7 linked regions of the Homo sapiens genome follow. The protein of the gene in region 2 interacts with the protein of the main gene of each other region in a biochemical or structural test. Each region holds a gene or a part of one and is shown on either strand. Other genes may lie near its edges. The genes, in order: PARD3, ASNSD1, MAGI2, PALS2, SNTG1, ARHGAP21 and HTRA1.

The links.
Region 1: the proteins of ASNSD1 (region 2) and PARD3 interact in a test that uses a peptide from one of them, tested with the Homo sapiens proteins (one large-scale study listed by IntAct).
Region 3: the proteins of ASNSD1 (region 2) and MAGI2 interact in a test that uses a peptide from one of them, tested with the Homo sapiens proteins (one large-scale study listed by IntAct).
Region 4: the proteins of ASNSD1 (region 2) and PALS2 interact in a test that uses a peptide from one of them, tested with the Homo sapiens proteins (one large-scale study listed by IntAct).
Region 5: the proteins of ASNSD1 (region 2) and SNTG1 interact in a test that uses a peptide from one of them, tested with the Homo sapiens proteins (one large-scale study listed by IntAct).
Region 6: the proteins of ASNSD1 (region 2) and ARHGAP21 interact in a test that uses a peptide from one of them, tested with the Homo sapiens proteins (one large-scale study listed by IntAct).
Region 7: the proteins of ASNSD1 (region 2) and HTRA1 interact in a test that uses a peptide from one of them, tested with the Homo sapiens proteins (one large-scale study listed by IntAct).

What each region holds. Positions count from the first base shown.
Region 1 is NC_000010.11:34,378,036-34,382,586, forward strand, and holds part of PARD3 (partitioning defective 3 homolog), read right to left. Parts: coding exon 4,505-4,551; intron 72-4,504; coding exon 1-71. UniProt on the Homo sapiens protein: Adapter protein involved in asymmetrical cell division and cell polarization processes. Seems to play a central role in the formation of epithelial tight junctions. Targets the phosphatase PTEN to cell junctions.
Region 2 is NC_000002.12:189,663,997-189,668,483, reverse strand, and holds part of ASNSD1 (asparagine synthetase domain-containing protein 1), read right to left. Parts: intron 3,109-4,487; coding exon of another isoform or gene 3,033-3,108; intron 2,444-3,032; coding exon of another isoform or gene 2,373-2,443; 5' UTR 2,352-2,372; coding exon 888-2,351; intron 721-887; coding exon 539-720; intron 1-538. Other genes in the region: ASDURF protein, read right to left, coding at 2,373-2,443, 3,033-3,108.
Region 3 is NC_000007.14:78,119,877-78,124,427, reverse strand, and holds part of MAGI2 (membrane-associated guanylate kinase, WW and PDZ domain-containing protein 2), read left to right. Parts: intron 1-4,551. UniProt on the Homo sapiens protein: Seems to act as a scaffold molecule at synaptic junctions by assembling neurotransmitter receptors and cell adhesion proteins. Plays a role in nerve growth factor (NGF)-induced recruitment of RAPGEF2 to late endosomes and neurite outgrowth.
Region 4 is NC_000007.14:24,649,952-24,654,502, forward strand, and holds part of PALS2 (protein PALS2), read left to right. Parts: intron 1-533; coding exon 534-761; intron 762-4,551.
Region 5 is NC_000008.11:50,655,667-50,660,217, reverse strand, and holds part of SNTG1 (gamma-1-syntrophin), read right to left. Parts: intron 3,310-4,551; coding exon 3,193-3,309; intron 1,627-3,192; coding exon 1,555-1,626; intron 1-1,554. UniProt on the Homo sapiens protein: Adapter protein that binds to and probably organizes the subcellular localization of a variety of proteins. May link various receptors to the actin cytoskeleton and the dystrophin glycoprotein complex.
Region 6 is NC_000010.11:24,713,197-24,717,747, forward strand, and holds part of ARHGAP21 (rho GTPase-activating protein 21), read right to left. Parts: intron 1-4,551. UniProt on the Homo sapiens protein: Functions as a GTPase-activating protein (GAP) for RHOA and CDC42. Downstream partner of ARF1 which may control Golgi apparatus structure and function. Also required for CTNNA1 recruitment to adherens junctions.
Region 7 is NC_000010.11:122,489,053-122,493,603, reverse strand, and holds part of HTRA1 (serine protease HTRA1 precursor), read right to left. Parts: intron 4,183-4,551; coding exon 3,978-4,182; intron 1-3,977. UniProt on the Homo sapiens protein: Serine protease with a variety of targets, including extracellular matrix proteins such as fibronectin. HTRA1-generated fibronectin fragments further induce synovial cells to up-regulate MMP1 and MMP3 production.

The sequences.
Region 1 (4,551 bases), on a different chromosome or scaffold from region 2:
CACATAGATTGGAGCTGAGCCACCTATTGTTACATCTCTGGAAGTGATGCTGAATCCCAAACCTTCTGTACCTAGGTATGTGAAGGAGAAGAAAAGTAAATAAAATGAGATATCTTGAATTTTACAGGTGTATTGCACCAGTATACTCAACCTCAACTTGACATTTTGTAACTTTCACAATGGTCCACATTTCTTCTACTACTTTAAAAGTTGTAATAAATTTTTCAAAATAGACTAAATTGTGGAAGGTTTAAATGGTTTACATATCAACAGTTATTAATCTAAGAAGAAACAGCAATCTTCTCAAAGACAGATGAAAGTTAATATGTAAATATGACTGCTAAAAGTTTTTAAATCAATGTAAATCTTTGAATAGGAAATTCACTACATGAAGAAAGAAAAAAACTTCTGTTAAGACCCACAGTACCTCAAAACTCAAGTATTATTGTGCAATAATGACATCCAAATTTTAAGGGTAGGAGGTATGAGCAAGGGAAACAAAAATGTCCAGGGAGATGGAAAAGAACAGTGAAATGAGAGGTATCTCTAGATAGAGGTAATGGAACCTCCCAAAATCATAATTATTCAAAGCAGTTTACTAAGAGGATAAACCATAAACCAAATTATCTTTGCCTAGTTCACTTCTAATTCACCTAAATCTTACCATGTATATTTCCTTCACCACCCCCCACTCCCAAACAAGGCAAATTACTCAGTGAAGACTCCATCTCAGATCATGGCTACCAAATCTGGGGATCATATTATGCTTAAAGGTACTAAATTAATGATGCATTTATAAATTACTCTGATGATTCACAGAATTTAAATTCTCATTTCTTTGGCAGCTTTCTTGACAGACAGTCTTACATGCTCAATACAAAGCAGAAAAGTGTTTATATGTCACTAGAATCAAGACGCAAGAAGCCAACACGTGCCCAGGAAAAACTGGGGAGATAATGATACATTTGTAATGAATCACAACATTTTTACAATAATGATTTCTACCTAAGCTTTTTTAAAAAGTTACTTCTTAAGATATTAGTTTCCATTTCAGTTAAAATATTGTTAAGGCAAATGCTTGCTCATTATGGGAAGAATAAAGAGATCTGTAAAGGTGAAAAATCTAGAAAAGAGCACATTAATCTGATACATCACTCAGTATAAAACTGTAATGAAAAGTATAAAATATAAGTGAACAAAAAAGGGTGAATAAAAATGTAGATTAAAGAAACATTAAAGGAGAAATAAAGAAAACACTCCATAGTTATTCCTGTAGCAAAACCTACCATAGTTATTCTCAACATCAAACAAAGCATTCATTTACTTTAGTCTGAAGTCACTTTAGGGTGCTTGGACTATTAATATTTCTGATGTCTTCCATGCTGAACACCTGAATGGCATACTGTCTATATGAAATGTTTGTTATTGCTCTGGGGAGATTTTTCCATATGTCTCTGCTTTCATGAAACTCTAATGACTTGCAATAACATTTATTAAGAAAGAATTCTTAATTACTCTCCTTTTGCAATACTAACTTTTTTGAACTATGAATGCTGACTGTTGTAGGAACCTCAATACTATTAAAATATCAGCAACAACCCCTAAATCTGTAAGCTAAAAGTTCAGGCAATGACCTTTCAAGGAAAGATAAGTAGATATCAATTTTCATTTAACAAAGCCAACAAAACATTCTGCACTGACTGAAACAGATTACTGACCTTCTCCTCTGACTTTATTAAAAAGCTAATTTCTACAAAAGAGCTGGGTATTTGAGAATACCAAAATGGCAATAAATATTAAGAAATCATAATTATGGAAGCAAGTACACTGAGGCTATTCTGTTGTCATGTTATATAACATAGCTCCAAAATTAGGCCAAAGAATAATTATACTGACATCTTTTTTTGTACTAAGAGTTGATTCCAGTTTTTGAAGAACTGCTGCCACTCAAAGCACATTAGCTCACTTTGAACTGAATCTGAAGTTTAACACTGACACACCCTATGTTTTTAATGTACTTCACTAATAAATGTAATAACTTGTAAGAAAAAAATCTGCTAGCTACAAGGAAAGCCTGTTCAATTCTCCTACATTCATTATTATTAAAATATATGCATTTAGTCCTAATCAAAGATAATCAGCATTCTTCCCCACATTTATAGTAAACATAATTTTTATATAAAATATTTGTAAGTATTGGCAGCATGCACAAGCAGCATGTGCTTTTTGTCATACATTCTCACAGTTGGTAAATTAAAATCAAGATAGATCTATGGGACTCTATATCATTAAGATTACTCAAGGTCTGAAAAACACTTAAAACCATTGTTTCTCCTTTCAGTGATTAAGCATAGTCTTTCTAAATTAGCTTGTGTAAATGCAATCATATTTTTCATTAAATGCTATTAAAATAATATCTGTATTCAAAACAATGGTACCAGTTTTGTAAGTAAAATGTATCAATTTGATTTATTTATCACTTCAGACTTACTATAACATAAAAATTAGATATACTCATTATTTTCCTTTTTTTGGAGAATCTGTATTCTGTTTAATACTTTACCTTTATCTTCTCACTTCAGATTTCCTTTGTATTTCTCATTCTTTCATTAGCAAAACAATGGTACTTTTAATGGCAAATCACCTCATTTAAAAAGTTCATGTTATATCATGATTTGTCAAATATCCTAATTTTTGAAAAACCATAATTAACTAAATGAATATTGCTGTATCAGTGTAAAAAGGAAAAGATATTTATGAACCAGTATCTTTATGACAATGGTGAAGCAAAATACTGTACCTTTGTTTAGAGATATCAAGCAGAATTTTATTTTTTATACGATTCTATTTGTAGTTCTTGATATGTTTTTGGTTAAAAACAAGGGCCTGTCATTTAAGTAGAGCAAAAGGAGGAAAGAGGATGTGATATTTCTCTCATTTAGGAATTGACAGAGCTAAAGGGGTTTCTGTTGATATGACTCTGTGTTTGCAACGAGGCAAGCTGTCAACTCCTGATCATGTCAACCAAGTATTTAGAGCTTAAAAACCAGTAACCAGAAATAAGAAACTTGAGGTTCACATAAAGTTCACTGAAAGAATATGAGTTAGAAAGGAAACAGCAGTCTCAGAGTTTACAACCTTGTAAATGCTACCCCAAATGTAAAGAAGAATGGTCTGAATATCCGGATATGGAAAACATACTAGTAAGAATCTGTGGCCAACAGCCACATGACCTGAGGAAATAATGAACCTCTCTTGGAATCATTTCCATCCAACTATAAGAGTTGATGGTTGAGCCTATAAAAAAAAATATTCTTTATAATAATACCATTTTGAAAGACATGATTTAAAAATATATCAAAATGCTCAGCTAAAATGGATCAGGAACAGTAAAAGTGTATCTTGGTGCCTGGACGAAACATTGGGTGAAAATCATAAAGTCAAGTCCAATAGTTTGCACTCAACTTTGAAGGAGGCAAACTGCAAGAACATGCTCTCTATACAGAGATCCACTGTATACAGGAAGGGTACTAAAATACATAATGGATGGAAGATGTATGAAGAATCGGCAATCGACATCATGACTTCCACATCACCATAAGAAAGAGAAGCAGGCCTGGACATGGTGGCTCACTTCCATAATCCCAGCACTTTGGGAAGCCGAGGTAGAAGGACTACTTGAGGCCAGGAGTTCCAGATCAACCTGGGCAACATGGCAAGACTCCAACACAACAAAAAATTTGTAAATGAGATGGGCATGGCGGCATGTGCCTCTAGTCACAGCACTTGGAAGGCTGACATGGGGTGTTGCGGGCTACGGTGAGCTATGACTGCACCACTGCACTGTAGCCTGGGCAACAAAGAAAGGCCCTGTCTCAAAAAAAAAAAAAAAAAAAAAAAAAAAAAGAAAGAAAAAGAAAAGAGAGGAAAAGAAAAGAAAAAAAAGAAAGGGAAGTAATGCAATAATACAAGAAAACAAAAGACAAGAGTCAATGGCCTGGCTTCTCAGCAACCTACTATAAACTCCTGGCAGCCTCAAACAAATTGGTCCCTCCCCACATCAAATACTGAGATTGACGTGCACTACCTCTAAAGTCCTCCTTGAGGGCTGGACTTATACAGCAAATGGGGCAGTCAAAATGGTCAAATCCTTACTATTGTTCTGCATTTGATATTAATGTCCTGAAGCCATTTTCTTTCACAATCAAAAATTTTACTACAGTAACTGCTATCTTCTTCTCATAGACATAGTCTTATTCTCTGCACTTTTACATTTTAATTTCTACAGAGCAAAATAAACCTGAGACATATAAGAAATACAATTTGAAATATGTTAAAAGGTAAGTAACTTTAAAAAATCTATCAGTTCTTTCACAAAATAATTAGATAAGACTCAGGGTGCTTTGGGTTAGTAGGTTGACTTTTAAAATAAATTCCATTTCTACCCTTGTGTGTTGCTGCTAAGAAAAGAAATTCCACAAAACAAAAACAGGATAGGTCGTACCTTTCTTAAGCTGGATATTAAGCCTCTTGCCTATTTTTTTGGTGTTA
Region 2 (4,487 bases):
AGGCTGGAGTGCGGTGGCGCGATCTGGGCTCACTGCAACCTCCACCTCCTGGGTTCAGCCATTCTCAGCCTCCCGAGTAGCTGGAACTACAGGCATGCAGCACCATGATCAGCTAATTTTTTTGTATTTTTAGTAGAAGTGGGGTTTCATCATGTTTACCAGGCTGGTCTTGAACTCCTGTCCTCAGGTGATCCACCCGCCTTGGCCTCCCAAAGTGCTAGGAAGACAGGTGTGAGCCACCATGCCTGGCCTACTTTGACAGTATTTTTCACTATAGTCTTAAAAACAATCCTGTCATTATGTTACCTTTGAAAATTACTGAAAAGACATTTCTTAGAGAATGAGTTCTAGAAAATAAATGCTCTCCTGGCTCTTCCCAGCTCTGTTTCTGACTTTGTTTATAATACAAAGCCAAGCTATTATTGCTGCTCTTATTCATGTGAACAGTCTCCAAAGAGAAAACAAACTTTAAAGTCTCCATTTACACTCTGCTGTTTTTATAAAAATACCGTAAGAACACTCAAATGATTAGAATTACCTTGCTTCTTTTCCATGATCACCAATAACTCTGTCATCACGACCAAGATTTCTAGAAGAAATTCGACCCAGTTCCATCATTATTTCCTTATTCAATCCTTCCAGCCCATGCGACTGAAAGCGGACACGATGACGAGAATAACCTGCAAGTTGCTCATCTGCACCAATTCCAGTGAGAACTACCTATGAGGTTTAAAGAAATCCGTATAAAAATGTTATCAACTACACAGTAAAGAAAATAAGATAAATGCACCTAAAATATGCTATATTCTTACAATCAAAATGCTAAAAGCTTTAAGGGTCAAAAATAGGTCTCAGGAATTCTCAGGAGAAGAAACACTGTGTCATACCTTTGCATTGCTCTGATAGGATTTCACTCCTTCCTGGGCCACTAACCAACCAATTCCTCTAGAAGCAAACCAGACTGCACAGCCAATGCTATCATCCAAAACTGTATCCAATGGCCGAATTAAGTGACATATTCGAGTTCTTCTTAATTTCTGCAGTTCTTCCATAGAAACATTAATTTCAACAAAATTCCAAATTCGGGAAGGGCTAACAGCTTGTAGTTCCTTTAGTCCCGCCCTTCCTGTGATTCGATCTGGTACACTGACATGTTTATTAGGACTGTCAGCAGCAGCAGCAGCAACATCTTTAGAGAATTCTTCTGAAGGTATTTCACATTTATTTTTCTGTTTATTCCCTTCTCTGTTAAAGGTAGTTGGCATGGTCTTTTCTTCAGCTATGAAAGCTACATTAAGAAGATCAATTGGTTCATCTAAAGGAATATGACGGTCAGCAAGGGTTGCAATAACCATGGAATCAATGCCCCCAGAAAACAGGATTGCAACATTTGCTTTCCTATCACACGTTTTCAAAACTTCATTTGCTGTCAGGTTTTCATCCCTAGGTAAACACAAGACACGTTTCTTGACTGCTACACTCAGGACATCAATGAACTGCTGAATTACTTCCTTCATGTGTACATCAGTAAGAAAGACTTGAAGTATCTCTCTTGTAGGTGGCACATTGGAAATATTACTGCAATGAGTCTCCAATGCAGCTTGTGGCAACATCATATTTAAAGGAACAACAGGTTTTTCAAGATACAGTTTGGCTTCATTTGCTACCACTGATACAAATGCTGGTAAGTCTGCTGAAATTTGACTCAGGCTATTAACATTTTCTTCAATAATATTCTCCCTAGAAATATATTTCCAAGGATACAGTTGTAAAATAATGCATCCGGAAATGACAGTAGACTTAAGATCAATTCTGAAAAGTCCAGATGCTGGAACTTCTTGCCACTGATTTGCCAATCCAGATGTTTGGGTGCCAACTGAAGAGAGGCAGAAACTCTTGCCCAAATTACTAAAATGCCAAAGCAAGCTACGGCGACCAAAAAAATCCCTACCAAACCATAAATAATGACTAGATGCTTGATAATATATAAATGACCAGGGACCTTGTACTTCTGAGAAGAGTGACAAAATCTCAGATTCATTCTTACAGGAGGAAAGATAATTAAACAAAATTTGAGTGTCATTCTCTTCAGCTTCAACCTTTATTCCACTAAAAATTTCTCCATTCCATAGAAACACATTGCCTCTTTCATCTTCCACAGGCTGGGTAGTCAAAACACCCCTCAAGTGTAGGACGTGAGCAGAAAATAAACACTGGTAGTTAACATCAGACTTTAACAATTGTTTACTACTATTGGGTCCCCGCTGTTTAAGATTATATAGTAAGTCCTCTTTTAAATCTTGACTGAAATGCTCAGCAGAAAAGTTTACAGAACAACAAATGCCACACATTGTTATGTGAAATCAGGTTGACTATTTCTTGATTTTGGTCTTGTCTAAGTTTTCTATTTCTTGGTATTCTTTTTTCAGTTCATCCAATATATCTGTTGCAGGGAAGGAGAATAAATATTAAATAACATAAAAATTCTTGGACTTTTACCTAGCAATTCAGAGGGCAACACAAGCTGTTTACCAAAATCAAACCATATAAACACACACACTGTGCCAGTACCAATGATAATTAACAACAGGCTACTAATAAAGAATGTTTATCTTTTAGAAAAATAGCTTCTGTTTTGCCGAGTGCTGATTTTGGCCCAAGCACTTGGCTAAGCACTTTTAACATAGCATCTTATTTAGATCCCACAATACCTTGGAGGCTTAAAGTATTTCACCCAAAGTCACAAAGGTAGAAAGTGGTAATGGTTTGTCATACTTAGACCTGTTTAAAATTCTAAAGCACATGTTAATAACTATTGCTTTCTAAAACATTTATAATATATATATATATATATATATATATATATATATATATATATATATATACACATATATATATAACTGTTGACTCATCTTCGGAAGCCTAATTTGAAGAAAATCAAACTGCTGCATTAATCTTTAGATATATATTTTAACACTCAGATGAGTATAATTTAGGCACCCCCCAAAAACCCCAAAAAAGAAAAAACTTACTCTTGCTCTCAGACAGCATTTCTGTTCGGTCTGCAAGAAAGAATATATTGCTGTTCTGTTGTTGCCTATATACTTTCTGGAAAACATAATTTAGGCTAATATCAAATTTTGATCTAAAAAGTAGATATTAAAATCCTTAAACCCTATTATCACTAATTCTTGAAAATCTATTCAGTACAATACTTTAGCAAATACAGACAAGCAAAAAGACAAATAAAAGTCACCCACTGCCCAACTACCAGAAATTGCTACTACTGAAATGAAACTATTTTCTCTCCATTTTAACAAAAAAGGTTCTTACTGTACCTGCAGATTTATGCTTTTATCAATGAGCAATATATTGAGAATACTTTTTCTTATCAGTAAGTGTTCTTTTACAAGAACACCAAAATGCCAAAGCAAGCTATGGTGACCAAATTATACCTACTGCTATATAGATATAATATATTACAGTTTATTTGCTCAGCTTCAAATACTAGACATTTAAGGTGTTACCATCTCTTTGCTATTGTAAATCAAGGTTGTGATGATTATCTTTGTAACTAAATCTTTGTGCACTACCATGATTCTCTCCTAAGTATCAACTACTATAAATGGAACTGCTGGGTCAAAGTGTTATAGTTTTGAATTGTTGAGACTTTTTGCCAATTTGCCCTCTAGAGAAAGTCTGTATTAATTCTGCCTCAACTTCTTTTTTTTTTTTTTGAGAAGGAGTCCTGCTCTGTAGCCTAGGCTGGAGTGCAGTGGTGTGCTCAGCTCACTGCAACCTCTGCCTCCCAGGTTCAAGCGATTCTTGTGCCTCGGCCTCCTGAGTAGCTGGGATTACAGGCACACGCCTGGCTAATTTTTGTATGTGCCTCAACTTCTAATATTCCATAAGTGACAATATCAGAAATATCTAACCAGCCAGTTATTACATAATCTTTACAAAGCTTTTAAGAGCTCAAACTCATTTCTTCCTGAATGTTAAAATGCAATTTGACACTATAACCATACACAAAGCAGTAGCTTACTTGTTTGTAACATATTAATGGAAATGGCATTAAATAACCATGTTACACATTTAGGAAAATCTATGTAAAAATTTTTTGGAGGGAGGGGAAGCAATGTATCCTTTTTTGTTCAATAATTATCCACATTCATTTAAAAGAAAAGTTTCTTCTCATCTCAATATAAAGTTCGTTTATATCAAAAGAAAACATCAAATTCAGGTATAAAACATCATTAGTGATTATAGCTCCAAGATACCAAAATACAACTAGTATCATTTGTTGCAAAGGCAATGTGAATGGCATATGATAGAAAAAAGACATCTTCAGCTATGAGATCTATCCATTTAAAAAAAGAATCTAGACACTTGCAATTTTAAAAGATGCTGAAATACTATACATTTTATTAAAGTATGATTAAATCTTATATATACTTCTTATAACTTTAATATATAGTTAACATAAA
Region 3 (4,551 bases), on a different chromosome or scaffold from region 2:
CTACCACAATCCTTTGACAGCTGGGAAGCATCCAAGTTGGAATTTAAACCCAGGCAGGGCTGACACCAGAGACTGGCAGCCCTCCCCGTGATCTAGCACCAGCCTCCTCTTACCCCGTCTAGCCCTGATTTGAAGATGGGCCTCCACATGGTTTCCTGGCTCTACAGCTTCCCTATAAGCCAGAAGGACACTTTCTTAACCTGCTATAAGGCCAGCTCACAAGCAGTTAAGTAAAACAAAATTAATCTTTCCAGTGCAGGTGAAACACAGTAGGAAGACCATGTGCAAAATGGCCAGAGCCCTGTGAGAGATAGAGACCCACGGTGGACTACAGGGCTGGTCTCTGTCGGTTACAAACAGTGGCCATGTATTTTCACAAGGGATCTAAATGACTCGCTGCTGGATATACACAGTACTCCCAAGGCAAAGAAGCCTAAATAGAGAAATACCCTTGCAGGAAAAGATTCCTCTTTCTTACAGAATTTAAGCCAGAGCAATGGTTCTCAGCACGGTTCCTGGCATCAGCATCACCTGGAAACTTGGTAGAAATGTAGATTCTCTAGCCCCACCCAAAACTGCTGAATCAGAAACTCTAGGAGTGGGGTCACCAGGCTATGTTTTAGGAAGCTCTTCAGGTGAAACTCTGAGGTTTTACCTTCCGAGGTTTTATTATAGATACCTGTGTCAACTGCAATCCAAAAATATTACATAAAATTTTTCAGAAATAAACAATTATAAATTTTAAATTGTGCAGCGTTGTGAGTATCGTGCTGAAATTTTGTCCTTCCCAGAAGGTGAAACAGCCCTTTATCCACACTGTAGATGCTACCTGCCCACTGGTTACTCAGCAGCCCTCTCGATTATCAGATTGACTATCATGGTATCGCACTGCCCGTGTTCAAGTAACCGTTGTTTTACTTAGTAATGGCCCCAAAGTGCAAGAGTAGTGATGCTGGCATTTTGTTATAATTGTTCTTTTTTTATTGTTTTTGATCCCTTGCTGTGTCTAATTTGTAAATTAAACTTTATCATAGATATATATAGGGAAAACAGTGTATATAGGGTTAGTTCTGCCTGTGATTTCAGGCATCCGCTGGAGATGTTGGAATATATGCAAGAGGTATGAGAGGGAGCTACTATATTCACTTTATCAAAAAACCAGTGGAGAGTAGCAAGTTTTGACTTTAATTATTATACTAGATGGTTTTTCAACATCAGTTAATACTGATGTATTAAAAGTTGAATAGATAAAACAAAACACAATCTGTGAATGCAGAAAATAAGGGGAATAATAAAAAGAGATATATCATTGTCACGTCTGCTTGCTTTTCTTCAGTCAGTCAAGAAGGCTGGTGTCATAAGAGAAACACAATGGACATTCAGATTTTAAGGAAAAGGATAATAAATTATTAGAAAATATTACTGGAGCTGTTTATAAAAAGAAGACTTACGTTTGTAAAATGGCCTAATAAAATTGGGAGGGATGAAATTTTCATAGCTAGTGAATAAAATCTCTGATACAAAGCTCCTAGGAATATAACCTAATTAAAAGCCAAAACTAAATAGAAAACACAGGCAAAAAATAATGAACATAAAAAATAATATTGGCAAAGCTCAGTAAAACAGGGAATGTAAGAAATCAGGAGACATTTGGAGGGAAAGAATAGAAATTCTAAGTGCTTAAATAAAAATCTGAGAGTCAAGTTAAAAGAGAAATCTGAAAGGAGATCGTTTGCTCTTAAAATGGTAAAATATTTTCCTGTTTCCATAAAAGTGTAATATAGTTCGCATTTCCATAAAATGTATTTTTATGATGAAAAAGAACATTATTTCATAACTTCATCACTTGCAGCTGGGTACCATTTGTGTATGCCTATTTAGCATCACATAAGCTTATTTATAAGATGGTTTACCTACTTTCTGAAACTCACATGATGCAAAAGTCTGCCTGCAATGGGCTTTGGAATGACTAAAACATTTTGTTCAACCAATCAATGCACAAAAAAATATCATTTGCCCATCTTTTTTTTAAAGGAAAAGCAACATTCCCTGAAATTAGCTTCTTCTAAATTTGTCACCTTTCCTTCTATAGACCAGATATAACTAGTCAATACAAAAGCATCTTGGTTTATATATTGTTTTTATTAAACATAAAACGATTTACAAGAATATTTCTAACATATGTAATAAGTGTAAATACTAACCATGATTCAAGGACCCATGAACCCATAGCCCCACTTAAAAAACAGAACATTACCAAGCTCCCATGATTTCATTCTCCTCCTACTCTCCAGCCCTCAGAGGGAACCACCTTCCTAAATAAAGCACTTGACATTTCTTCTGTTGTTACCACAGATGTGTGTATCTCTCAACTATAACCTTTAGCTTGGTGCACTTTGTGAACTTTATGTAACTGAACCATACTGTACATGTTCTTCTCTGTGGTTTGCTTTCTATATGTTATGTTCATGAGATTCATCCAAGGTTGGTGCATGAAGCTATAGTCCATTTATTTTTCACTGCTATAAGTTATTTCATTATGTGAATATGCTACAACCTATAATAATTATCTATTTTTCCATTTTATGGACATTTGAGATTTTCCCTGTCAATTTACACTTTGGTTGTTTCCAAGTTTGTTGTAACTCATACAATCTTTGTACATCTTTCCTGCTGTACCTATGCAAGACTTTCTCTAGACTAGACTAGATGCCTTGGAGGGCACAAATTTAACTTACCTAAGTAACACAAAAGTATTGTCCAAGGTGGTTTTACAAAGTTATACTTGTATTAGCATATGTAAAAAAGTTTTTCTTACTACACACACTCACAAGATTTGTACGTCAGACTTTTAAACTCTCATTCTGGTAGGTAGAAAATTATATATTTTAGATTTGGATTTGCATTTCTTGATTACAAATTCATATTCATCATTTTTTCTTATATTTATTAGACGTTCATGTTCTCTCTTAACTAAAAAATGCCTGTACATGTCTTTCCTCATTTTCTGTTGAATATTTCTTCATGTTGATTATAGAAATGCTTATATATTATTGGTGATCTTTTTCATCAATTAATGTGATACAGATATCTTATGCCAGCTTATGGCTTGCAGTTTCACTTTCTTTATGATGCTCTTTGATAATGAGAAAGTCTTAATTTTAGCGTAATTGGCTTAACCCTTTTTTTTTTTTTTATAGTTTCTGCTTTCTGTGTCTTGTTTGAGAAATCATTCTCCAAGACATGGTCTTAAACGTCTTCTCTTATATCTTCTTCTAAAAGTTGTATAGTTTTACTTTTTATATCTAAGTATTTAATCACCTACAGTTGATTTCTCTGTATGATATAAGGTAGAACCTCAATCTCAATTTTTCCATATGGATAACCACATGTCACAGCATCATTATTTTTTTTTTTTTTTTTTTTTGAGACGGAGTCTCGCTCTGTCGCCCAGGCTGGAGTGCAGTGGCGGGATCTCGGCTCACTGCAAGCTCCGCCTCCCGGGTTCACGCCATTCTCCTGCCTCAGCCTCCCAAGTAGCTGGGACTACAGGCGCCCGCCACTACGCCCGGCTAATTTTTTGTATTTTTAGTAGAGACGGGGTTTCACCGTTTTAGCCGGGATGGTCTCGATCTCCTGACCTCGTGATCCGCCCGCCTCGGCCTCCCAAAGTGCTGGGATTCCAGGCGTGAGCCACCGCGCCCGGTCCACAGCATCATTATTTAATGAGTATTTCTTTGTCCCACCCCCCACCAATCTGCAATGACAGCTCTATAATAAATTAAATTTCTATAAATGCAGTGGTCTGTATATGGATTCTTTATACTGTTCTACTAGTCTATTTGTCTATCCCTGCATCAATGCCATACTTAGCTACCTTTTAATGAGTGTTGAGTTTTGTATGGGGAAACTTTCTCTCCCCCAGACACACATCTTAATTCTTCAGTGGTGTTGGGATGTTCTTGGGCTTTTGCCCTTCCATATAATTTTAGAATTTTCTTGTCAAGTGTTTTTGTTTTTGTTTTGAGACAGGGCCTTGCTCTGTCGCCTGGGCTGGAGTGCAGTGGCACAATCTCGGCTCACTGCAAGCTCCGCCTCCTGGGTTCACACCATTTTCCTGCCTCAGCCTCCTGAGTAGCTGGGACTACAGGCACCTGCCACCACGCCCGGCTAATTTTTTTGTATTTTTAGTAGAGACGGGGTTTCACCGTGTTAGCCAGGATGGTCTCAATCTCCTGACCTCGTGATCCGCCCACCTCGGCCTTCCAAAGTGCTGGGATTACAGGCATGAGCCACTGTGCCCGGCCACTTGTCAAGTTTCTAAAAAATCCTGTTAGAATTTTATTGGAATTGCTTGAAATCCATGTATAAATATGGAAAAATTTACATCTTTATAATATCGAGTCTTTCCATGAACATGATGTAATCCATTTATGTAGATTTTCCATAAAGTGCTTAAAGTTTTATAGCTTTTTCCATAACATACCTGCAAATATCTTAGACTGATTCTCAGGTACTTTTTGTGTTTTATTTTTACTCTTGAATACAGTA
Region 4 (4,551 bases), on a different chromosome or scaffold from region 2:
GAAAAGTTAAACTGAGCTAGAAGTAGAAATATGGCAAGGGGTAGCAAAAAATTTCAGAAGATGACTATTATGTTTCTTCCTACCCTTTGAAGACATGAACTACCCTTTGAAGAAATACTGACAGTATCAAAATATAAAAAGAAGTTGTTATTAAAAATTGAAGCCATACTAGGACTCTCTAAGTAGTGAAGTTTACTATTCCTTGGTAAAATTATTACTTCTGGATCCTGACTATAAGAACAGTGAGTGCAAAAAAGGAAAAGCCAGGAATAAGTCCATCAGAATGCACAAATACCTTTTCCTGCTCTCTCGAGTTTCCATTTAGCCTGTAAGATACATCCTATCCACTAGTGTAATAAACTATACTAGTACACAGTTTAATGGGAGTGAAATATTGAGACAGGAGAGAACATGGGAAAAGTAAGAATGATTCATTTTACCTAGTTTTAGAATTATTTTCTTACATATGCTCATGAATATTTAAGCATTTCTCCCTAATAATTAATGAGAAATCTGTTTCTTATTTTTCATAGGGTGTGACATTTAGGGTTGAAAATAATGATCTGGTAATTGCCCGAATCCTCCATGGGGGAATGATAGATCGACAAGGTCTACTTCATGTGGGAGATATAATTAAAGAAGTCAATGGCCATGAGGTTGGAAATAATCCAAAGGAATTACAAGAATTACTGAAAAATATTAGTGGAAGTGTCACCCTAAAAATCTTACCAAGTTATAGAGATACCATTACTCCTCAACAGGTTAGTAATAAAATTTTTGGTAGTATTAAAAATACTTTCATGTTTTTAATCACAGTGTTGGAAATAACTATCAGTTGCTACTATTTTGCTAAAGAAAAGAGAAAAAATTGATTTGAGTGTTCTGAAATGGCTTATTTTGTCATGGGTGAATTTTTGAATTTTTAAACAATGCTATTTTACTATTGTAAAGGAAATAGTAGATTTCTTCATTAACACCAGGAACCCTGGCATAATAGTAACCTACAGCTAGGTATCAGAAGAACCATAAAGTCTTTGAATTACTAATCTAGTAAACATTTCTGACAGCTGTTATGTTCAGGCATTGTATTAGGCCCTGGGAGAGGATAAAAATGCAGTCCAGATCACCTCCAGCTTAGTGTTTGTGTCATGGGTGAAATGACTGATGAGGCCAGAAAAGAGGATGGGTATAAAGAAAATCTTGGACCCCTGGTTTGCACACATTTGATCTGTATTTTAAAACTAATTTTAGGTAAACTAGGTAATTGAACGGGAAAATGTTTTAGTTATAGAGATTGTCTAGACTCGGTATGTTAAGTGAATTCAAAAAGAAGAGAGATGAGATTATGTAACCAGGTGGCAGATTTTTGAAGGTGTGAGGTGATTTGTGAACAACAGCTCTAATGAATGGTTAAGATGACCACTTAGGTTCAAATACCAGTGCTGCCAGTTATCAGCTTACCTTCTCTGTGCTTCATTTTTCTCATCTATATAGTTAGGGATAAAATTTGTTTTCTCAAAAGATTGTTATGAGGATTAAACGAGTTAATTCATGTAATGCTCTCACAGCAACACCTGGCACATAATGAGTGCTCAAGAAGTGGCTGCACTTGCTGTGGTGATGACGCAGTAGTGGTGAAATGGAACCGTAAAGAAAGAAAAAGAAATTGCGGAGGAAGAATTGAAAATTATGATAGGAGTGTTGGAACCAAAGAGAGGGTTTTCAAGCCTAAGTAATGTAGAAGTAGATGCCTCTAATGCTTAGGTTTATTCCAGAAATTTATTGTTTGATGTATGAATGAAATTATAAGTTTTCTTACATAAGATACTGCCAGTGTATCTTATTTCATATTGTTAAAATGAGAGTTTAAAAGTCTAGTTCTTACATTTCCATACAGTTATTTGAAATAACATTTCATTGAATGTCTATTTTAAACTGTTCTTTCAAAGGTAAGGATAGATTATTTAGTCATTAATATTAGCATGTAAATTGAACTTATGAAAATAGATAGGCTTGTAATTAACTTTGGTTGAAATGAAGGTAGTTTTGTGGTCCTCAAGGAAAAGAATTGTGAAAAATAAATGATATTAGTACTTAGACATTTCATATCACTAGTACCTCTCAGGCTACCTTTATTCCTCAGTTGGCAACTTTCAATTTGTGACAGCCTGAGGCCTTATCTTGGACCTGCGTACGCTGGAAGAGTAAAATCTAGGATTTACGTATTTTATTTATTATTATGTGTTAGTTGTAGTAGGAAGATCTTATTTTCCTTCTGTGGTCTAAACTCCAGAATTCTTCTAGCTCACCATGGCTATAAGAGACTTTTACAGGCAAAATAAAATTTTATAATATTAATAACTAGGGCTTTGGCCCAAATTCCTACATAGATTTTGCATCTGGTGAACTAACTGAATACCATGAAATGCAAGGACATTTAGCCTTGTTTAAACATAAGTTTTCCACATTCCATACCCTCTCAAACTCTGCTTTTCACTTAGCATTTAGAGCTGGGGAAATGAATTCAAGTAGGAGAGGAGGAGTCTTATAAGTCCGAGGTAGCCTGAGGCGTGTCCTCCCATAAAGAAGTAAAGAAACTATAACATGAAGGCTTCCAAAAGAACATCCAAATTGAGACTTTTTTTTTTTTAAATGAAAAGGGGAACATTACTCATATGCTGGAATAATAGGCATAAACCAGGGCATCTGCAAACCATGGGCATCCTACTGAGATGCTATAGGGAAGCAAGGGCATTTTGCGTCTTCAACTCTTTCACTAAAATCTCCACCATGTAGTGCTGTGGAGCTAGTCTCAGCTCTGGATTGCTGCAAGAGCAAATGAAAGCCAAGAACTCTTCCCTACCACGGTAATGTTTTTCAAAAGCATAGTCAGTAGATGATCTTTATCAGAATCGTTTCAGGTGCTTGGTAAAAGTCCAGAATCTGCTATGGGACATAAGTATCTATGTTTTAAATTTTGAGGGCCAGAGTGAGTTAGAAGTAGCCAATTCTGAAGTTCTTCAACTTTCTTATAGCTTAGATTTCCGGGGGCTATTCGTAATTCCATTTGTTTATTAAGGCCAACTGATAGGAATTCTCTCTTATTCTTTGGAACCAACATGACCTGGACAACTAGAAACAATATAAGAAAATATATTACAGGACTGTTTCATTCAAGGATATACATTAAAAATTCTCAACAAAATATTAGCAAATCAGATTTGATTGTGTATATAACAAAGATGATACAACATATCCAAGTTAGATTTATTATCCCAGGTATGCTAGGAGAGTTTCATATTAGAAAATCCATATGTATGTAACTAAGCACATTACCAGATGAAAAGAGAATAACCTCAATGGAGAATTTGATAAAATTCAATGATTTTTAAAAAATGATTAGTAAATTAGGAACAGAAGGGAAAAGCCTTAATTTTATTACAAAAAAAAAAAATAGAACAAACATTATTCTGAATTAACTAATGTTAGAAGCTTTCCCTTTAAAGTCAGAAACTGGCCTTGCAGCTGGTCTGCCTGAGACCTCTAGTGCCAACCCCAATACCCCACGAAGTTTAATTTCCACTCACGAAATTCCACTTTCGTTTTCATTATAAAATGAAAAAGCCCTCACAAACCATGAAAAACTTGCCAGATTTCAAGCACAATTGTGCACTGGTAAAAAGGAACTGCCCTCAGATGATACAGCAAACATTATCTGTTAAAACAGATGATAAAAAAAATCTTCAGTTTTCCTGAAAGAAAGTAGAAATAGGCAATATCTCTGATACTAAAGAGGTATGTCTGCAAACCAAGGAATGGTGATCTTCATTAACAATCCCAGTGTTCAGACATCTCTAGCAGCGAACACTTTGACCATTACCAGACATGCTGAGACAAAGCAGCTAACAGAAATGCCACCCAGTGTCTTAAACCAGCTTGGTGTCAACAAGCTTAAGGAAACTGGCAGAAGCTGGATGGAAAAGTACCACTTACTATTGGGGAAGTGGTGATCTTGTTCAGAATTTTGATGAAGCTTCCAACAGTGAGGCAAACTGAATTGATTCAGCTTCTAAAAAATAATACAATTTCAAGAATTTTAACTGCTTTTAAAATTTTTGTTTTATATATGATAAAATGTAAGTCTATAAATTCCAAGACCCTTGGACACTGCTTTTTAATTATTGATTATATACAGTTATTTATTGGCAATTAATTAGCCAGAAAATAGTTTAAAACAAAGATAAAGCCTTTGCCTAGTTAAAAAAAAAAAAAGAAACTAGAGAAGGATGCTCACTAGCACCACTTATATTTAATATTTTCTTGAAGGATCCATAAGTACAGTATGACAAAAATAAATTATACAAGCAAAATGTTTGGAAAGGAGGCAATAAAACTTATTTACAAATATGATCATGTTTTTGCATAGAAACCCCTCAAAACTACAACTTATTAGAAATAATAGAGTTTACCAAGGTACCTGAAAATAAGATGAAGACACAAAACTCAATTGCATTTCTGTATGTCATCAGCAAACGTCTAGAAATGTAACTA
Region 5 (4,551 bases), on a different chromosome or scaffold from region 2:
TTCTTTTCCTTCTTTTCTTTTCTTTCTTTCTTTTCTTCCCCTAATTACATGAGTAGCTTTCCTAAAAATACACAGTTCGCCCTGGCGCGGTGGCTCATGCCTGTAATCCTAACACTTTGGGAGGCGGAGGTAGGCAGATTGCCTGAGCTCAGGAGTTCAAGACCAGCTTGGGCAACATGGGGAAACCCTGTCTCTACTAAAATGCAAAAAGTTAGCTGGGCATGGTGGCATGTGCCTGTAGTCCCAGCTACTCAGGAGGCTGAGGCAGGAGAGTTGCTTGAACCTGGGAGGTGGAGGTTGCAGTGAGCCGAGATCACACCACTGCACTCCAGCCTAAGCAACAGAGCAAGACTCCATCTCCAAAAAAAAGAAAGCTATCTCATTAGCCATTTTGGCAATTATTTCAGAAAACTGGAGTCGTGTATGATCTCCTTTTCCTCAGATACTAGCCTCTGTTTAAGAAATTGTCAGACCCTTCTTTACTAACAATACACTCAAGTATTTCAGGTTGTCCTTCCACCATTACGCCTACAGAAGAACTCAAAGCATGCACAGTGATGAGCAATCAATGAACTATACTTTTGGCTGGATTTTGCACTTCAGAGAACTTCAGCTTTAATCCAAAGTTCTCTATAAGGAACAGAAACTATAAACAATTTTGAGGTAATTATAATTTTTGTCTCTCTGCCTTCAGACACTTTTGATGCATTTTATTATATTTTAAATGTTTCAGCATTTTTCTACTCTGCTAAGTCTTTAACGGGAAGAGAAATAGCTAACATAAAGCAAAGGGAAATTAGCTCCCCTTGGATACAGAAACAAGGTCAACCTTATGCAGGAATTTAATTATCAATCTGTGGTGAGTCCAAGCCTACAAACCCTAAAGTAGAAAGTGAATATATATTAGTCTTCATGTTTTATAGGTTATTCCAATTTTAATTCTTTAAAAAACGCTATAGAAACCATGTGACATTTTATAGAATTTGTGATGGCTTGATATTGTAATAATCCTGCATATGGCATGAAATTCAACTGATATATGACAATCGAATGTTCTTTTACATATGCAAAAAGATGGTCAAGCCATGAGATTAAGAACAAAACAGCAAAACTTTTCTTTGCATTTTTCCTGATATTTTCTATATTTTCTAATTCCAGGTCTCACCCAAATCTTTCTCTTTTGCATTTTATTCAGAAAAAAAGAATTAAAAAAAAAAACATGGTAACAACCAACGTTTAAATTCAGACTACTTTCAACTGAATTTTCTTCTTCCCCAGTGAACTCCTGAGGAGCTTCTCCCTGTTCCCTCACCCACGGTGGGACTGCAGAGTCTGCTTGCAAGTTATTTAAGCAGATAGCTGAGTGCCAGTGCACTTCTGTGCATTCTATATTTTCTCTTTTTTGTCCAGTTTATTTTCTTTCTCTTTCATTTGTCTTTATCGTGTCTCTTCTTTCATTCCATGAATGATTTGTTTTCATGAGCTGCTTATGAGCCCAGAGGCACTATTTGCTGAGGAAAAGCCATTCAAATACTGACTACATATTGATCATACCTTGAGGATCTTGCACATAATCTCATAAACTGAGAATGTTTTCTCTGCTCTCGTCCAGTCCCAGGTGGTCACCTTTAAAAGATAAGAAAATAATGTTTAATTTGTTTTAGAAAGTTATTTACCACTGTATTTGATTTGCATAATATAGTGAAAAATAAGAAAAAACTTTCACAGATGTATCTAGTCTCTCATCTGTGAAGCCATGCTCATAAAGGACCCTACATAATGCTTTTGTTTCCTCTTTTCCAAGCTTTGTTACCATTTGTCTTATGCTTTCAGCAAATGATTTATATTATGTGCAACAGTTCTCATTTGCCCAGTGTCCTTATATATCTTAAATAATATACGCATTCTCTACCTATAAATACTAAGTATTTACATTCCACACTCATATTTTTTTTTTAATTTACCACTAGTTAAATACAGAGAATACCAGACCTCAACACAGCTATATTTTTTAAATATACATCATTTATATTAAGAAATTCCAAGATGACTGTGACATTGCAAACATACCCAAAGCATAATGCAGTTATTTCACTTACTTAGGTTGGAAACTATATTTAACTGTCTTGTCAAATAAATTATTCAGAGTAGGAATAGAGTAAAATATATAAATATCAATTTTTCCTCTGTCTTCCTAGTGCTTTAAACTTTGTGTAGAGACAGACATTTAAAACAGCAGCAAGTTAGACCTGATGATTTCTAAATCTTATGTATTATTAGACCTGCAAGTGACTGGTCTGGCATTTGGTATTTATATTCAATAAATATTTATTAAGTGTCTTCTGAGCTGCAAGGTACATGTTTCCAAAAGCAAGACTTGAGGTGCAATAGGTATCTATACATATCTAGTACAAATCTCAATAACTAGGATATAGAATATAATAGAAGATGAAAATGTTATTGATTTTATATAGAGAGACCTGTACAACATAAATAAGCAAGTTCGACTTGTCATAAATGATAGCTTACCAGAATGTATTTGTGTTGTTTGCCAAGGATAGAATCCTCTAATTTAAATGTTGAACACCATGAGAGTTAACATCATCCTATGGGATTACCATAGGGTGAGATAGACTTAATAGTAGCTAGATAAGATGCTATCATTTTGAAATTTCCTTATTATTCTTTGCTAATAATAAATTACTAGTAATTAAAAGTGCTGAATAAATTTAAAAGAACTTTCAAAAGATCCTTGGAAAATAAGAGTTTAGTAAACATGTTCATTCATGTATAGCCCTAAAACAGTTTATTCTTTTTTATTTCACTTTTGATATATTCATTTCTTTAATTTTTATTCCATAAACAAAATACACTGACATATGCTTGAAAATGTTTCTTAAAATCTCCTTTCCCATGTCGTCATGAGATTTGTAATGGCATTATAATTTGATCCATTATTTTATAGGTTCACTATTTATAAAGAAGTAAGTTCCAGACTTTTCAAGGGTGTTAAAGCAAATGTTTAATGTCAGAATATATATTTTAGTAAGTTAAATCAGATAAACTGATTTCTACTTTTTCTCTATATTATTTTTTAAAAATATTGATGGTATACTATTTGGTGCTGTTAAGTTGGTGTCAATCTCTTGTGATAATATGGAAACGACCAATACATTTCAATAAAACACGTACTGGAGGTGCCAGAAACTTGTAGAGACATGAGCCCCTCAGGGCCAGGAAGGTCGGGGAGTACACTCTGTCCTGGAGGGGGTCTTGCTCCCGGGCTTCACACCAGCCCATGTAGACAATCTGCAAGAAAATGGAATACAATCAACTGTCAAAACTTCTTATTTTAGATATCTTATATCTAAAAATATTTAGATGCAAATATTAAAAATATTTTAGGTATTTTTCATGTAGTATTAAAAACTCACATAAAATTATCAAATTGATTGATGCAAAAAAGTACATTAAACCAGATTTGGCTTCAGTAAATGAATGTAAACCTCTCATAAGAATTTCTTATACGTTTCTACCAGCATTTATCAAGTGTTTATGCCATCCAACCTGCCATGGATTATATTTCCCACTCTATCAATTCTTACAGAAAAAAATACTTATTTATAATAGAATTCATTGATGCATCGCACTTGTTTACCAATTACTGACATTTTATTAATTGGGAATGTGCTTTAATACAGAATGTTGAAGTGAGTAAAGAAAGCAAATCAGATAGACATCTTATGGCAATACCACTAGGGCGGCACACCACTTCTCCTCTGTGCCTGATAGGGGAGAATGATAAATGCCCTCCTTTTAATCATTGATCTTAGATGAATACAATTTATGCTAGTGTATTCATATATCAAATGGCATTGAAATCAACTCTTTAGCCTCTAGTGCTTAATAAAGGCAGATCGATTTCCAAACAAAGATTTTGTGAGATGAGCCACTCCTCTTTTTATGATCTGATTTTCTTGAGAGTCAAACATATACACAAACACTTAACAAATAAGTATGACATTTCTAACAACATATTCATGTGGCATTCAATTTCTTTCTCATCACAACTCTGTGCGGGAGGATATACCTCCCACTTCATATAATTTACGTTGGCTTTATGGTTGGCAGAGTTAAGTCCTCCTCCTAGATATTTTTTTCTTTTTTTGGCTCATGAGACCTTCTATCATCAATAGGATATTAATGAATGTGTCGCAAGTAGAGTTAGCTTAGTATCTTGTGCTTTTGCCATTATCATGAAAAACTCATACCCAGGATAGGAACACATGCCAGCAGACCAGAGCTCAGCTTAACACCTGGACCAAGCCCAGCTAGCTCCAAACTGGTGGCTAATGACAATCAGTTTACTTTCAGAAAGAAAGAAATACTTATTGTTGTATTCCAGCTAGTAAGGGGATGGTTTGTTTTGCAGCATTAATGTGGTGACAGTTGACTAATAACAATGCAAGAATTTGAAATGCAAGATTTGAAATATTACTGTCGTCTACTCATAGATCTCATCTTCTTTCCATTAATTATGTTTACTCTCTA
Region 6 (4,551 bases), on a different chromosome or scaffold from region 2:
AAGAGAGTGTCTTCCTTAGGTTGTACGAAGGGCAAAGAAGTTGTGGGATTATAAACAGTGCTGCATACATAGCACTACTCCTGACTATGCCAGAGCCCTCTTCAGAACAGAGATAAGCAACAGGGGAAAACATAGTAAGTAACCAATTCTGAATCAAAAACACACCCAATATCAAATAGAAAACTCAGCAGCTAGTCACCAGGGAAAAGTAAATAAAGTCTTTAACTTCCCTGTTTTTTTATTTTTATTTTTTACAATAATAAACAGTTTCTTCTGATCTGTCTACTTACCCCGAAACAGATGAATAGTCAGAAATATCAAATTTGGGTTCTCAATCTATTCTTTTATTCACAAATCTACATAGTGGAAATTCTTGCACATTAAATAGATAACTAGAAGAGGACTTATAAAACATTTCCATCACATCAAGTTTCTTTTTTTCTTTTTTTTTTTTTTTAAGTGATGGGGGTCTCCCTATTTGGTCCAGGCTGGTCTCAAACTCCTGGGCTCAAGCAATCCTCCCGACTCTACCTCCCAAAGTACTGGGATGACAGGCATTAGCCACCACGTCCAGCCCACATCAAGTTTCTCAAACCTATAGTACAATATATCCATTTGTCTTTTGGATTATTTGAGAAGCACAAAATGCCATCATCCAGATTAGATTGTGAAATAATTTGCACAATACCCAATTTTATAAGAACATGGCAACTTAAACCATAAAACTATTTTAGTGAAAGCAATCCAAAATTGAGTTTTTTGCATTTAGATATCTTTCTACTTCAAACCAGGGAAGATATGGAAGGCTTACAATATTTTAACACATTTAATTACTTACAGTCAATTAAAATTAGATAAAATAGTAGGACAATCTTTAAGTCCAATAACCTTTCGTTTTAGTAATCTAATCACATCAACTAGACAGAAAAACAAGTGCCTACCATATGGTCTTTCTGTAACAGAAAATAGCTGCATTGAATAACAGCATCTGTGCATCTTATCAACGCTAGCATTGCCCATACTTAAATCAGCATATTGTTAACTATAATAAGAAGACAGGACCCTTCACAAAGCAAAGAACAAAAGAAACTGAATATTACCTTTGTGCTAGATTACTTGACCTGGTAGTAACTAAAGAAATGAAGAACATCAAGGCACAATGAACTTCATAAAACGCTTAACCTGGAAGAAATGAATGGGAAGGAACACTAACAATTTACGGAGAAATTCTTTAGATCTGGGTACTCACTTTGCTGATGGCTCTTATCTAGTGATAGGCCCCACTCAATACATTAAAATCCAGGCTTCTGCCGAAATGCCACTTAATGATCCCTGCTGCTGCTACTGCCATCATTCTCAATTCTAACAGGTTTTAGCTTTAACCCTAACTTGCAGCATAAAACTTTTGGCATGGAACAGTATTCTGACACTTAAATTCAGGTGTATGAAGAAACACAAAATTAAAATTAAATAATAGAGTTATACCATACTGTAACTAGTCTAGAATGAATCCTATGCCTCCAATGAAGAAACTTGCTTTTTAAAAATTGTTTTTTGGCCGGGCACGGTGGTTCACGCCTGTAATCCTAGCACTTTGGGAGGCCACAGTAGGCAGATCACAAGGTCAGGAGATCGAGACCATCCTAACACGGTGAAACCCCGTCTCTACTAAAAATACAAAAAATTAGCCAGGCATGGTGGCGGGCGCCTGTAGTCCCAGCTACTCGGGAGGCTGAGGCAGGAGAAAGGCATGAGCCCGCGAGGCAGAGCTTTCAGTGAGCCAAGATCACGCCACTGCACTCCAGCCTGGGCGACAGAGTGAGAGTCCATCTCAAAAAAAAAAAGAAAAGAAAAGAAAAGAAAAAGAAAAAATTGTTTTTTAAGTGTTGCTTTGAGCAGTGTGTATGCTTTTTAGTATTGTTTTAAGCAGTGTAGGTTTGCCACAAACCAAATTTTCACAAGACTGAATACATATTACCTATTTTTAAAGTCTATACATAGTGTTCTTTTATTGTCATTTTGGTAATAAAAAAGAGAAAATGTAAAAATAATATAATCCTGATATTCTCATCATTCAGAATAAACAACTGTTAACATTTCATCACGGTCAATGTTTGTGATCTTTTTTTAACTGGTTATGAAATATTTATGACATGAAAAAATAAAAATACATAATAAGGAACATCCATATACTAGCCATTCGTTTTAAGAAATAAAACATCATCCATACAGATTATCTTTTTATAGCTTCTCTTATCGACCAGTCTGATTGCCCTTTCACTTGTCTGTTAATTATCATGATCTCATCTCTTAGTGGAAATTGTTTCATACATTTGTACTACACATTGTCTTGGTTACTGTTACTTGGTTACCAGCTTCCCAAAGGTAAAAAAGGTGCAAAGAAAAAAGGCACCAAAAATTTTAACAGCAGTTCTAACGGAAATGAAATAGAATTTAAGGTGGGCAGGAGGTCTAAGGAAGAACATATTTCATACTGTACATATTTTATATAAACTAAAATAAGTATTCAGCTGGGCGCAGTGGCTCACACCTGTAATTCCAGCACTTTGGGAGGATGAGGTGGGTGGATCACTTTGAGATCAGGAGTTCGAGACCAGCCTGGGCAACATGGCAAAACCCCATCTCTACTAAACATACAAAAATTAACCAGGCATGCTGGCACACGCCTGTAATCCCAGCTACTCAGGAGGCTGAGGCAGGAGAATCACTTGAGCCTGGGAGGCGGAGGTTGCTGTGAGCGCAGATTGCACCACTGCACTCAAGCCTGCGTGACAATGCAAGGCTCTGTCTCAAAAAGAAATAAAATAAATAAGAATTCACATACTACATGTCCAAATGCAAACTCAGTAACATTTTGGAGTTTTGCTAAGTCTTTATTCATTCCAAAAACATATTTATTGACAACCTATTATGTGCTAGGCACTCTTCTAGGCACAAGAAACACAATGTGAACAAAACAGACAAACTGCACTCTCAACACCTGCGTTCTAGATATATTACCTGTCTCAAATAAACAAACAAAATCAAATGCATAAGCATGCCGGGTGGAGACTAAGTGATAGGGAGATAAAGCAAGGAAGGAAGGCAGAGCATGGCACAGGGAGCAGGGGAGGGGCATTCAACAAAGGGAGTGGTTGGCAAAGCTTCACTCGGAAGGTGACCTCTAAGCAAAAGCCCGAAGGAGCCAAGGAAGCAAGCTGTGCAGAGACTGGGGGAAGTGTTCTAAGGGGAGGGTTCAGTGAGTGGGAAGGCTCTGGGGACTCCCACGTTTGTGTACATGCAGAAAAGCAAGAGACCAGAATGGCTAGCACAGAGTGAGGCGGGAAGAGGCACAGGAGGTGCGCTCAGGGAGGGGGAAGGACCAATTATACAGGGCTTTGCAGGTCACTGCAAGAACTTTGGCCTTCAATCTTCAGAGAAATGAGAAGCCATTTGAGGAATTTGAGCAAAGGAATGACACAACTTGATTTATAAATTGTCTGTCCTGATTGCTGTGTGGAGAACAGGCTTTAGGCTGGCAAGGACTGAAGTGGAGAAATCAGTCAACCAGATCCACATGTCATATATGAGAAAAAAGAGAGACATCAAAGATCACTCCAAGATGCCTGGCCTGGAAGGATGGGATTGCTATTGCTTGAGATGAGGAAGACTGGAAGGAGCATACTTGGGAAGGTGGGCCAGGGGAATGGAGGTAGAGTCAGGATTGTGGTTTTAGATATGCCTATTTACTATTCAAATGGAGATTCTAGGCAGTCAGGTCAGTTGGATATAGGAATCTGATTCTGCGAGACAGAGGAGCAGGTCAGCAATAGAGATATACACATGTACACATAAAGAAATATAAGTGAGTGTGTGTGTGTCAATTATCTGCATATACTTGATATTTAAAACCATGAAACAGTATTGGGAGAAGAAATGAGGATTAACTGAGCTTTGAGGTGTAGAAAGGTTTAGCAAATCAGGATGTCGAGGAAACCTCAAAGAGACAGAAGGAGGTGACAACGAGGAAGGAAGATAATCAAGAGAGTATAATGTCCGGGAATCTAAATGAACACTGAATAAAATGTAAAGCCTTTCCTGCATATTCATTTATTCATTCAAAAAATATCACCTGACACTTACTATGTGTCAGTCCCTGTGGAAACAAACATGGTCCCTGCTCTTATAGGGACTGCAATCCAAGGGGGATATAGATAAACTTGTAACTGGTATTCCTGAAAGTGCAGGGTGTTTTGAGAGAATACACTAGGGGCAACTGAAAGAGTCTTGCGGGTCAGGGAAGGCTTTCCTGAGGAAGCAGTATTGAAGAAAAGACCAGTATGATGAGTAAAAATCAGCCATGGAGCAGAGGGAGGAGGAACAGGGGACAGTAGAGGGAAGGGTAGAAGAAAGGACCTGACAGGAGTTCAATCTAGGAAGAACAAAAAGAAGTAACAAGTGAGACAGAAGCGCGGACCAAATTACCAAAGTCCTTTCAGACTTCACAGAGGTCTGAATTTTATTTCAAAGGAAATGGGAAGACAGAAAATT
Region 7 (4,551 bases), on a different chromosome or scaffold from region 2:
CTCTGCCTTGTACTCCAGCCTGAAGAAACCAAACTGCTCTCTTTTTACTTTTCTCTCTCCCTGTCCCCACCCCTGCCCCAAACTGCTCAGGAAAAAAAAACCCCGCAGGGACAAAATGCCACCATTGGATGAAAGCTTGACATATGCTGCGCACAGCCAGTGGCTCATGTTAAACGCATTTGGAAAGAGTTTGTAACTGAAGCTGAACTAGTCTGCCCTCAAAGCTGCTTTCTATTAACATGTTTACACGCACACTGTCCCGACTTTCTGCAGCTGGGATTCCCTCCCCAGGCAGGCTGGCCCCAGTCGTGGGTCCCAAGGAGAGGGGAATTTCAGATTTGGGCAGAAGCACAGAAAGGGATGCCTGGCCGGGGCTGCAGGTGGACACCTTCTCACCTCCTGCTTGGAGGGAGACAGCAGGGCAGGCAAGAGGGGGCTGGTCCGTGATTGTCTCCCAAAAGCTCTTCCGGGTCCCAAGACTCAGCAGGCAAAGTGAGCGCACATGTGTCTGCTCAGCAGTGAGAAGCAGAAAAGGAGTCATTTGGTCACAAGCCCAGAAACATCTCTGGCAACTTCAAGCCACTGGAGATGTGAGGGGAGCTCCAAGAATGGGAGGAAAAGCAGATATTAAACTGGACTCACAAAGTGCAAGAACTCAGGCAGTGCTGGGGGCTCAACAGCAGGGGCTACAGCAGCTTCACCATGTTAGTCTCTGTGGGTGGCATCCAGCTTCACTTTGCGATTCCAAGGGGAGCCTCTGCTTGCCCTAACTGGGTCCTGTGTCCACTCCTTGGCCACAGAGGGTAGGACACCATGACTGATGGTCCCACCTACGCTGTCCGATGATGGACATGTGAAATGCCGGCTGTTGCTGCCAGAAAAGGGGGTAGGTGAGTGGCAAGTGGACAATGACCACAGATGTCCGTGGCAATTCTTATTTCACTGAAAGTCTCAAGAATATCACGTTTACAGCCACGCGCAATGGCTCACACCTGTAATCCCAGCACTTTGGGAGGCTGAGGCAGGTGGATCACCTGAGGTCAGGAGTTTGAGACCAGCCTGGCCAACATGGCAAAACCCGGTCTCTACTAAAAATACAAAAAGTAGCCAGGCATGGTGGTGCACGCCTGTAGTCCCAGCCACTCAGGAGGCTGAGGCAGGAGAATCACTTGAGTCCTGGAGGTGGAGGTTGCAGTGAGCGGAGATGGCGCCACTGCACTCCAGCCTGGGCAACAGTAAAACTCTGTCTCAAAACATAAAAATAAAATGAAATAAACATGTTTATGAAGGACAACGGGGGCCCCTCCAAGTGAAATCAGGATGCCAGGGGAGGAGCTGGGCCCAGATGATAAGCCACCGAGTTAGTCACTGGGCCCACGGACGCGGCAGGCAGTCTCACCAGCTTCACTGGGTTACTCTTAAATGGCTTTGCAGGAGGCTGGGCCACAGTCTCATATGACAAGGAGCCGTGTAGGTGATTTTCATTCCTCAAGCACAGTTTCTGCTGGTTCTGTTCTGCCTTCTCGGTTTTCCTGATCTCTTTCATCCTCTTTGTTATCCCTAAGATGACACAAAGCAAGGCCAGCCAGAGCTTCCCCCGAAATAACCCATCATCAAAACAAGGGAACAAAAGAGAAAAAGCTGGAAGAGATGCTGTTACTCTCCCTACTTTCAACTACTATCAGCAAAAAAAAGCAGTTTAGTCAGTGGAAACCAGTCTTTTGTGTGGGTGTCTGCAATTTAATATCCTTTCATTTCCAATTCCATTTTGAAAAGCCACATCAGTTCAATTTTAAATTTCAAGCACCCTTTCTTGGGGGGCTTGAAACACATGTCAAACAGCATGCTGCTGGCTGAAGAGCTAAACTCCCAAGACAGCAGGAGTCAGGTCAGACACACTCTGCAAAGCTCGTCTATTGAGATCGTTCACGTCTTGCCAGGACATGCCAGGGATGGCACGAGGAGACAGTCTCCACCTTGGCTCAAAATTGGAAAAGAATATCCCCCGGCCAGAAGCAGCCGCACGGTATGTGCCCACGCATTCCAAACACGAAGTTACGCAGTGGGGGCGGCGTCCAGGCCAGCGCCTCGCCTGCACACAGCCCATGCCCTGCTGCTGGCTGCCTCCCAAAGCTCCATGAGGCTGAACAGGTCCCACGCGTGGCCACAGGCTGTGCTATTCTGACTGGCTCCTTCCGGTGAGACTACCACATCCTGGATACCTTTCTAGCAGCCTGTTCCTAAACCAGATGCACCCGCCTTCCCATGGGCTGTTTAAGGTCAAGCTGTCCCATCAAACCACGGGGCCGGCCTCTATCCCTCCAGCAGTAGCCATGGGCTGCCTTAGGAGGGCAGGGTCATGAGGTGTTTGCTGTGTGGCCTCACACAGGTTACTAGACTTCTCTGAGCCCCTGTTTCTTCTTCTCTAAAATGGGGATAACACAGCTATTATGCAGATTAGGTGAAAAAGAATGAAGGCAGAGGCTGGCCCAATAATCCTGTGACCAATAAACACACTTTGAAAGATTAGTTGTCGCTAGAAATTCCACAGTGACCTAATAGAAATAACACACAACTGCAGCCTCACTCAAGGCCAGTTACACACACCGGGCACAGAGCCTATATCTACCCAGAGCCTCTTCGGCCATGCCTGGCCACCCAGCCATAGAGAAGCTACAGGAACATCGGGGAAGGAGGGTAGTAAATGTGTTAGCTGGTGGTTTTCTGAAGACTGGCCGTAAAGGAGCCTGAGCTGGGCAGCAACTTGATGTTATAAAAAGACGGAGAAGGAGACCCGGAATCCTACCACCCAAACAGCACACGCAGAGTTGTTTCCAGAAGGAGGTGTAACCAGCGTGCCACTGAACAGCACAAACAGCCAGATTAATTCCACGCTTGTCTGGAATTACTCAGCCCACACCCAGGTAAAGCGAGGCAAGCAGAGGGCTGGACAAGAGACCCCACCTGGCTCAGCCTCTGGTCTTTTCCTTGGTCAGAGGCAGGATTCCAGCCTCCTCTGATTGTTCCCTCCATCTGAAGTCTAGAAAATTATAAGGATGTGAAGAAACTGGAAACCACGCTTTCACTGAACATGCCACACAGCAAACAAAACCTCTCTCATCGACGTGTCGAGTGGGGGTTTTTGATGAGTCAGTAAGAAATGGATATTGTCCCAGACATGAAGACTTTGCTAAGCAAATCAACAGAGCAAAAATGATTGCAAAGAGAATATTTAAATAGAAAGCATTTTCAAATACAGCATTTCCCAAACTGATTTTGGTATGTCTCAGTTCTGCCTGCCCCCACAAAAAGCTGTATACTCAAATGATTATAATTTGGGCAAATAGTTCAGTCAACACCCTTTTGTAGGCAAGCCACGTGCACACTAGCATACTAAAAGCTCTGAGAAGGTCTGGAAAGAAGAAATCCATTAGCTCTGTTTTAATTCAAGTTTTCCAAGATGTTTAAAGTACGAAACATTCTTTTGAAACACATCTCATAACCCCGCAAAACCCCAATTTGGGAGAGCTGGTTTGTTTTCAAAGTAACTGTTGACAAGTTAAGGATGGCTCAGTCTAAAACCCAGTAAATTCTATGTTCATTGTGAACGCATGATGTATCTGTGGAGGATAAATAAAATCTGTAACAAGAGTTGCCACAGGATTGGGAATGGGAAGGAGAATCAATTTTCACTACTTACCTACTAATTTCTTTACAAATCTATTGCTTTCTTTGACAAACATTTAAAACATTATTTTAAAAACTTTTATCTGGCTCCTTACAGAAGTTTTCCTGAGCCCCTTCCTCTCCCACACCCCCAGGCCATACTCAGCATCTCCTCAAGGCCCTCCTGTGACTGGCTCAGACTGGCTTCAGTGCCCCCCGAGAATCAGCTGCAATCAGAGAGCTCTGGTGCCTTTGCCAAGGGTGTTCCGGGGCATCTGAGAACTCACCTCTGCAGGCGAGAACACCCTTACCTGGTGGTCAATTTTGATGAGTGCGATGTCTGCTTTCTCATCCACATCCTTGATTTTGGCTTCGTAAGTGGCACCGTTCTTCAGCTCAACTTTGACCCGGTGCTTGTTGGTCACCACGTGGGCATTTGTCACGATCAGTCCATCTTCCGACACAATAAACCCAGACCCACTAGCCACCGGCACCTCTCGTTTAGAAAACGGAAGCCTAAAATCCAAAGGAGTACACACTTAAGCCTGTAGCACCTTAAAATGAACGCTTCAACGCATTGATTAATGGGTTGTGCAACAGCCACACACACCTAGCCATCGCTCCTTTATATATCGGGCTTAGCATTTAAACACTAAACATCCTGCCAATTTTTTGCATGCATCAAAAACTTCCACTTACAAAATATTCTTAGAGAATCTCTTCAGAGCCCGAGGTTCTTTAAACATTCAGAAGGGTCAAGAATGTAGATTTATATAGTCGAATAGGGAAAATGTTCTAAGGGAGACACACTTATCTTAAGTAGGAAGATATTCAGTGACACTTTGACACTTTAATGTATCTCAAAAATAGCTCTCATGTTTTGCT